Homo sapiens: one gene and its partner. The protein of the gene in region 1 purifies or fractionates together with the protein of each later gene. This does not show direct contact. Each region holds a gene or a part of one and is shown on either strand. Other genes may lie near its edges.

Region 1 (3,806 bases):
AGTGGGAGATGCCTGGGGCGGATGAGAGACGCGCTGGGCTCCAGCTCAGCTCTGCTGCCCTCTGGGAACGCAACATAGGTCAGGCCTTCAGCTTCTGCGGCTTTTTGTTCTTCTCTGAAAAGGGGCTGATCACGGCTAAGGGCGGTTTGAAGGTCAAGTGCAAAGTGCCGTCTCTTATAAAGGCAGAGCAGTGGACTCCTCAGGAGGAAGTGAACTGAACCACAGTCCCTCTCGACTTCTTTCCTGGCTGCATTTTCATAAATATTTGTTATTTAACATTTATTTGCTCTTTTTTAGTTTTGCTTTTGCTGTGTTTTGTTATCCTTGGATGTGACCTTCTCCAAAATACCCCTTTTGGTTCACGTGTGTGTGTGTGTGTGTGTGTGTGTGGTGAAGCAGCGTCGAGAACATACTGTGTGCCCATATGCTCCTTCCCTTGGGTTTGCTTTATCATGGTTTACCTTGGTTTTGCTTTATTTCAGTTCTTTGATTTGTTTTCTTTTAGCACATTGCGTCTTTGCTCGGAAGATCTTCTTGAGTTGGTGAGAATGCAGGGCCGAGTAGCCAGCTGCATTGCTTAGATTTGATTCATGTCACAGCATAAATTGTCTTGATTCCAAATCCTAAACCAGGTGGGTGACTCCTCTGACGAGCTCTCAGCTGTCTCAGCTGAGAAAAATAATCATGGAAAAATAGTTTGGTTGCTCTAGCAGCTTCTAATTTTGCCCCTTAGGTATCATTAAAGGGTTACAAGAATAATTTTTCTTGTTTTTCTCTCCAACACTGATAATTTTTTGTTACCAAAGAGAAAGTCCGTGTTACGTTGGGTATTTTAGCTCAGCATTTGCAGGGTTGCAGTTTGAAAAACCTGAGGTCCTGCCTGGACAAGGACCGCTGTTAATAACGGAGCTAGTGAAGGACATTTGCTGGAGACAGAGCTCTGATCTCAGAGAGCTGACAATGGAAAGAATTCTAAACGAGCAGTTCTTCAAAAGCAGGGAGGCAGTACTCGGGTGATGTGCTCACAGCTCCCATAACTGGGAAGTTTGGAATCCCCGCCCCAGACATCTTCACGGTCACCGTTGCTATTGGACTAGACCAACCTAAGATTTTATATTAACAAAGACAATGGGAGCAACAACTTCTCTTGTCATGTTGAGCTGTCTTTCGTTTTTCCAAAGCCTTCATAAACCAGCGTAGACCGGTGCCTGCAGTTTATCCCACAGCTCAGCCCTCCCTTGTGGCTGCCAGGAAGAGGTCTGGGTTTCTGACTAAGCCTGGGCTAGAGCAGCTGGGGGCTGTGCCCAGACTCATTTTATTGTTGACTCAGGGAATTCTCACTGCAGTGCATGTTTTGCATCTAGTCTGTAAAGCTAGCTAATGCTGCGACTATTTGATTCACTTTAAATTCCTCCCCAGGGTTTGCCAGGGCAGGCTTCTTGAAATCTGCATCTTTGGCCCAGTCAGGAGGGCTTCCTACTTAGTGTAAAATTTTCTGCACTTTGAATGATTTTTTTTTCCTTTTCAAATTCTCCCGAAGCCAATGACGCCTTGGTGGCACTGTTGAGCTGTGAGTGGATAATGGCGTGGGAAGGGCCAGGGCTGCCTGTGATGCCCAGAGCAGTGCACTCCCGCGGCAGATCATACTCGCTCCTGGGATGTTTATTAAACACCTGCCACGTGCCAGGTGCCGTTCTAGGTGCTGGGGACCCAGCACTGAACAGGAGTAGAGTCTCCCTGGTGGGCCCCAGCGGGGGGTGTGGAATGGCACCAGGAGGTGGTTGTGGCTCACTGTGCCACAGCCTCAGAGGGAAGCTGGTTCAGGTCATGTTCTGCCGCATCCAGTAGTTTCACAAATGTTAGGGGACCACCTGGTCTGTAGCTCAGACGGCCCTTCCTGCCCCCATAGGCCAAGTTCAAAGGGATCCAGGAATAGATCTGGAATGTTCCAGATCCATTTCCAAGGCTTCCTTTAGTTCAGTAGCTGGCCGGACAGCAAGTGGCCCCAGCAGTTCTCTTGTTTGCGTTTCAGGAAGAGTTGGGCTGTGGAAGGACATCTTCACCGTCTCCATGAATGAGAAGTTTGACTTGGTGTATAAACAGAAGATGGGAAAGTGTGACCTCACGTTTGACTTTTATTTATAATAACAGAAACAACAACCTGCATGCTCACAATACCCAGACAGTCTACTAGCCAAAAGTCCTGTATGCATTCATTTATTCCTTGCTGGACAAACTCTGGAAGCAGCGTGTGAAACAGCGGGGGAAGGGAAGAGCGGCGTGAGCGGAGGGAGTGTGATGATTCCCAACCGAAAGCAGCTGTCTCGCCTTTAGAACGTGCAGCCTCTCCATGTCTGATTACAAACAGTCTCCACATTGCAGTTCCAATGGCCTGGACCGTAAGGATAAAGCCTGTAATATATGCAACTAGAATGTCTGCCTTTTCAACCCCGTATTATTGTATTTTATAGAGCTTTTCACTGGAAATCTACATAAATGTCAGTAAACCAAATAAAAGTTCATTTCCAAGGGGAATCAGGAGCGAGCCACACCCGAATGGTAGAAAGATCTCAGGGTTAACTCTTTATTTTTGTAGTTTTATTATCTAAGGCACAGCCATTCTGTTCTCACTTGGTTCTGAGATAGTGGTGAGAACAGAGGATGAGTTGGGTCTGTTGGGGGGAATCTGGACACTTGTTTATTCTGACGGAGTTCACTTCTTCAGAACCTTCCTGAAATGAGCAGAAATTGTTCACTAGGTCTTCAGAATGGACGTCCTTCTGCCAGAGACTTCCAGCGGGCGGCTCCAAAGGCCCAATGCAGAGGAGCCCGCGGAGCATGTGCTGAGGGAAGTCTGCCTGGTGAGGCTGGCAGGTGGGAGTCTAATGCAGTCAGGAGCATTTGCATGCAGTGGGTGGAGAGTCGGCCACCAAAGGACCGAGTTGCGCTCGGAATTTGAGCTGAATTCCACAGCCTTACTTTGTTTCCTGAAGTGATAGCCTACTAATGCTGGCAAGCAGATGCTTAATAGTAAATTTCTAAAATCCCCGGGTCTTTATCATTCAGTTTGTTCTGTGCACCTGAGGCGCTCAGCCGTGGGAGGACCATTTTGCGAGTGTAGCCCTGTTTCACTCGGATCAGGTTGGCACGGCCGCCTGCGTGTCTGTCCACCTCATCCCTCCGTGTATCTGAGGGAGTAAAGGTGAGGTCTTTATTGCTTCACTGCCTAATTTTCTCACCCACATTCGCTGAAGCGATGGAGAGTCGGGGGCCAGTAGCCAGCCAACCCCGTGGGGACCGGGGTTGTCTGTCATTTATGTGGCTGGAAAGCACCCAAAGTGGTGGTCAGGAGGGTCGCTGCTGTGGAAGGGGTCTCCGTTCTTGGTGCTGTATTTGAAACGGGTGTAGAGAGAAGCTTGTGTTTTTGTTTGTAATGGGGAGAAGCGTGGCCAGGCAGGTGGCACGTGGCATCGCATGGTGGGCTCGGCAGCACCTTGCCTGTGTTTCTGTGAGGGAGGCTGCTTTCTGTGAAATTTCATTTATATTTTTCTATTTTTAGTACTGTATGGATGTTACTGAGCACTACACATGATCCTTCTGTGCTTGCTTGCATCTTTAATAAAGACATGTTCCCGGCGTTGCGTCGAGCGTTTCTGCTTGTGGGGGTAGAGGGGTCCCTGCAGCGGTGCTGTCGGTGCTTGGGACAATATGACTGTGGGCCCCGTTGACACCCCATTCCCTGGGGTTGACAGCAGAGGGAAACAGGCCCGTGTTGGGCTTTGATGAAGCAGAATTCAGACTTTCCA
Region 2 (3,806 bases), on another chromosome or scaffold:
CTGGGGATCCCGCAACAGCTGGAGAGTGGCCGCTGTCCACCCTGCAGGAGGCCGAGGATCCTCGTTCCACCCACCTGCAAGGTCGACACAAACTGAATGGTGCTGACCAGGGCAAGGGCAGTGGCTGGGGGAAAGGTGAGGCGGAGAGAGTCCAGGAGGTGTGTAGTGTCTATCCGGATGTCCACAAAGACGTACAGCACCCGGAAGTCTTGGGCCGAGGTGTCCATGGGAACTGTGGGAGGGAGGAGTTCAGGGGCTGTTTGGGAAGGCAGGAGCAGCAGAGGGCCCGGCCAGGCTCAGGTCTCTGAGCAGCCAGGCGCAGTGGCTTCAGCCTGGGGGTAAAAGGACAGGGTAGGAGAAGAGGGGGGTCACAGATCCCCTAGAAGCTCCTTCTCAATCAGACTTCTCTGTCACCCGGCCGGGGCCCAGCCTGCTCTACAACCAACAGCCTTTCAAACACCTGCATCTGGGACAGAGCACCGTTGCCAAGGCAACCAAATCCAAAGGAAAGATCTACCTGCAGAGCGGGAAGGCAGAGGCCACCCCAGAAACCAGGAGGGACCTTGTGTCTCCAAGCAGGACAAGAAGGCACTGCCATGGGGAAGATGAATGTGCAGCCTGCCTCCCTGCCAGCCCCGCCACCGTCCAGGTGTCCTGGCCCCACCATACTCAGGCAACTGTGGCCGTAGTGCACCAAGAAGTCAGCTCCCAGGGCCCTCGCTGTGAAGTCATCCACACAGCAAGCCCCGTAGGTCACGTCACCCATCACCATCACTTCGGCCTCCGTGAACCTGCGGGCACAGGGGCGGGGAACGGTGGGACAGGGACACAGGGACTGAGGTAGGAGAGACCCAACCCTGGGAGGGTGTCTCAGGGCCCAGCTCCTCTCTCCCTACCTCTCCCAGTTCCTCGGGATGGCAGCTGCCACTTCTGCCAACAAAGATTAGGAGGGGCACAGCTGCCGCCTGCCCCAGCCTGGCAGCCGCTCCTGGAACTGTTGCTGCGTGAGGACCCTCATTCCTCTACCCAGGCTCAGGCTGCAGGAGGGACCCCAACCCTCACTCCGGCACACGTGGGGTCAAAACACAGACGCCCCATGCCCTGACTCACCCACCCAGAGCCGTGAGCACGCACACACACCCAAAGGTCCTCACTCCCGCGCTGAGTGCTGTGGTGGGCATGGGCGTGGCTGTATGAATACACACAGCCTCCCTCTTGCCGGGACCCCCACTCCCTCCCCACCACAGGCAGGGCCCCCACCCCCTCCCCACCACAGGCAGGGCCCCCTCACCCGGACCCCCACTACCTCCCCACCACAGGCAGGGCCCTCTCGTCCGGACCCCCACTACCTCCCCACCGCAGGCAGGGCCCTTGGTGCCCAGGATGGGGGGACCCAGGCACAGCTCCCCCATAGCACATGGCACCACCTACACGCCTCCTGCATCAGGAAGAGGAGGCTCTGGCCAGAACACTGCCGTGGGAACTGCTGCCAGGCCTGAATCACTGGGGGAGGGGGTGGGTGGGGAAGACCTTGTACCCCTGAACTCACCCTAGGAATGGAGGAGAACCCCCTCTTCCTTGAAAGAGACTCACACTTGGGGCGTGGAGCCTGGCTCAGTGACTGGGGTCCCCCCATCCTTCCCCTGGGGGTGTGGCAGTGGAAGAGTTGAGCTCCTGCTAGTCACCCCCTCCTCCACCCCCTTCCCCAAATCAGGCTGTGCCCAGAAGCAGATTATTCACCTCCTTAGAATGCAGCCCAGGCGTCTAAGTCAGCCACAGCACTTAATTTTTTATAGATTAAAATGTATGCAAATTGGCCTGAGCCCCAGAGAGCATCCCCAAGGGGCAAGACGGTGGGAGCAGGGAAGTGAGTCTGTGGCAACAAGATGGGGCAGCAGGGGAGGGAGGGCAGCAGCAGGGGAGGGGGATGGGGCAGCAGCAGGGGAGGGGGATGGGGCAGCAGGGGAGTGGGGGAGGAGGGGAGGGGGCAGCAGGGGAGGGGGGAGCAGGGGAGGGGGAAGGGGGAGTAGGGGAGGGGAATGGGGCAGCAGGGGAGGGGATGGGGAAACTGGGGAGGGGGATGGGGAGCAGGGGAGGGGAGGGGGAGCAGGGGAGGGGGAAGGGGAGGGGAGAGAGGGGGAGCAGGGGAGGGGAAGGGGGGAGAAGAGAGGTTTGGGGGAGCAGGGGAGGGAGGGTGGCAGCAGGGGAGGGGGATGGGGCAGCAGGGGATGGGGGAGCAGGGGAGGGGGATGGGGGAGAAGGGGAGGGGGAGGGAGGAGCAGGGGAGGGCGATGGGGCAGCAGGGGAGTGGGAGGTTCCCAGCATGAGATGACCTCCCCTTTCTTCGTTCCCCTCCCCTGTTCCTGTGCTGGTTCCAGATGGCTGAGCTCTCACCCTCCCCACCAAGGATGGCTCATTGTATTGCAGAAACTTAGAGTGACAGGGGTAGGATGTAGAGGAACTGAATACCTTCTCCCAGGCACCTCCCACTCCAAACCCATCCTTGCCCTACTTCCCCAAATGTGCCCGAGGAACAGGTGCCCCCCACCGCCCCCGACCGGCAGACCTCCCACTGATCACTCAGCGCATTTCAGGGGCAGCTTGGAGAATTCTTAGGGTCCTCCCCAGGTCCTACCACCTGCTCTGGGTCTAGCTTTGAAGACACTGGGATTGATTTCTTTCTCTGTCCCAAATGTTTAGGGGAGGGGGGATTTGCAGGGACAAGCAGGGCTCTCAGCAAGCTGGGAGATTTGTTTTGGGTTTTCCCTGAGTGTGTGTATGGTTGTGGGAGGGAAAGGGGGAAGGTGGAGGTTCAGAAGGAAAAAATGCCCGCCACCAGGGCTTTACCCACCCGGGTAATGAGCATAGGGGGTGGGGGAAGCCTGGCTCACCCTCCTCTCCAGTGCCCCAAGCCTCACCTTTCCAAGATATCCACAATGGTACAGGCAAAGAGGAGGAGGCCTTCCGGCATTTGCAAGGCCACTGCAAGACGAGCAGAGACATGAGAGGTGGAGGGCTAGGAAGGGGCTGCAAGGGGGACACTGTCCCATCTGGGCCAGGCAACCTCTCCACCCCAACCCCAGCTCAATGATCACAGGCTCACCCTTCTTGGCCTGGGCTTGTTGGATCCTCCAGATGGTCTTGGGGATCTCAAAGTTGTAGTTGGAAGGCAGGACCCGGATTGCTGCCTGCAGCTGAGGGTTCTTCAGGATCTCAGGGGGGATCTGATTGGCCACGCGGCCCCGAGGGGCCCGACCTAGAATGGATATAAGGCCTGAGTTGGTGTCTGTCTTTGGCTGAAGCCAGATTGAGATGGAATAGGGATCCCTTTTCAGGGCCTGCCGGTGCCCCCGCTCAAGCATAGAAATAAAAATTTTGAGTCATCTCAAGAAAAATCCCAGGCATCTTAGCTAGCCCTACAACCAGCAATTAGGGAATTAAATAACTTGCTAAACAAGAAGATAATAAACAACAGTCACCCAAGTCAGAGTCACGAGATGCCTGGTTCCCTATAGAAACTACACATAACACCTTGACATATATCCCTAAGTTGTTTTTCAGAAACCAGGACACCCACCCCCCCACCAGGTGAAAAATGCCAACTAATTGCTGTCATGTAAGACCTCAGACAGACTGAAGCCAGAAAATAGGTAAGAAAGTTCCAGAAATTCCCCAGCCCTTAATTCACTTTAAAGATCCCCAGAAGCCCAGCCTTTAAAAACCCTCTGCAGCCGGGCGCAGTGGCTCACGCCTGTAATCCCAGCACTTTGGGAGGCTGAGGCGGGCGGATCACGAGATCAGGAGAT

What was found.
Region 2: the proteins of SULT4A1 (region 1) and DPH1 purify together in Homo sapiens (affinity purification with mass spectrometry, with the first as the bait; one large-scale study listed by BioGRID). This does not show direct contact.

The regions. Positions count from the first base shown.
Region 1 is NC_000022.11:43,824,340-43,828,145, reverse strand, and holds the end of SULT4A1 (sulfotransferase 4A1), read left to right. Parts: intron 1-505; coding exon of another isoform or gene 506-546; exon of another isoform or gene 547-632; intron 633-2,032; coding exon 2,033-2,145; 3' UTR 2,146-3,637; downstream 3,638-3,806. UniProt on the Homo sapiens protein: Atypical sulfotransferase family member with very low affinity for 3'-phospho-5'-adenylyl sulfate (PAPS) and very low catalytic activity towards L-triiodothyronine, thyroxine, estrone, p-nitrophenol, 2-naphthylamine, and 2-beta-naphthol.
Region 2 is NC_000017.11:2,032,955-2,036,760, reverse strand, and holds part of DPH1 (2-(3-amino-3-carboxypropyl)histidine synthase subunit 1), read right to left. Parts: intron 3,257-3,806; coding exon 3,104-3,256; intron 2,983-3,103; coding exon 2,919-2,982; intron 792-2,918; coding exon 670-791; intron 233-669; coding exon 75-232; intron 1-74. UniProt on the Homo sapiens protein: Catalyzes the first step of diphthamide biosynthesis, a post-translational modification of histidine which occurs in elongation factor 2.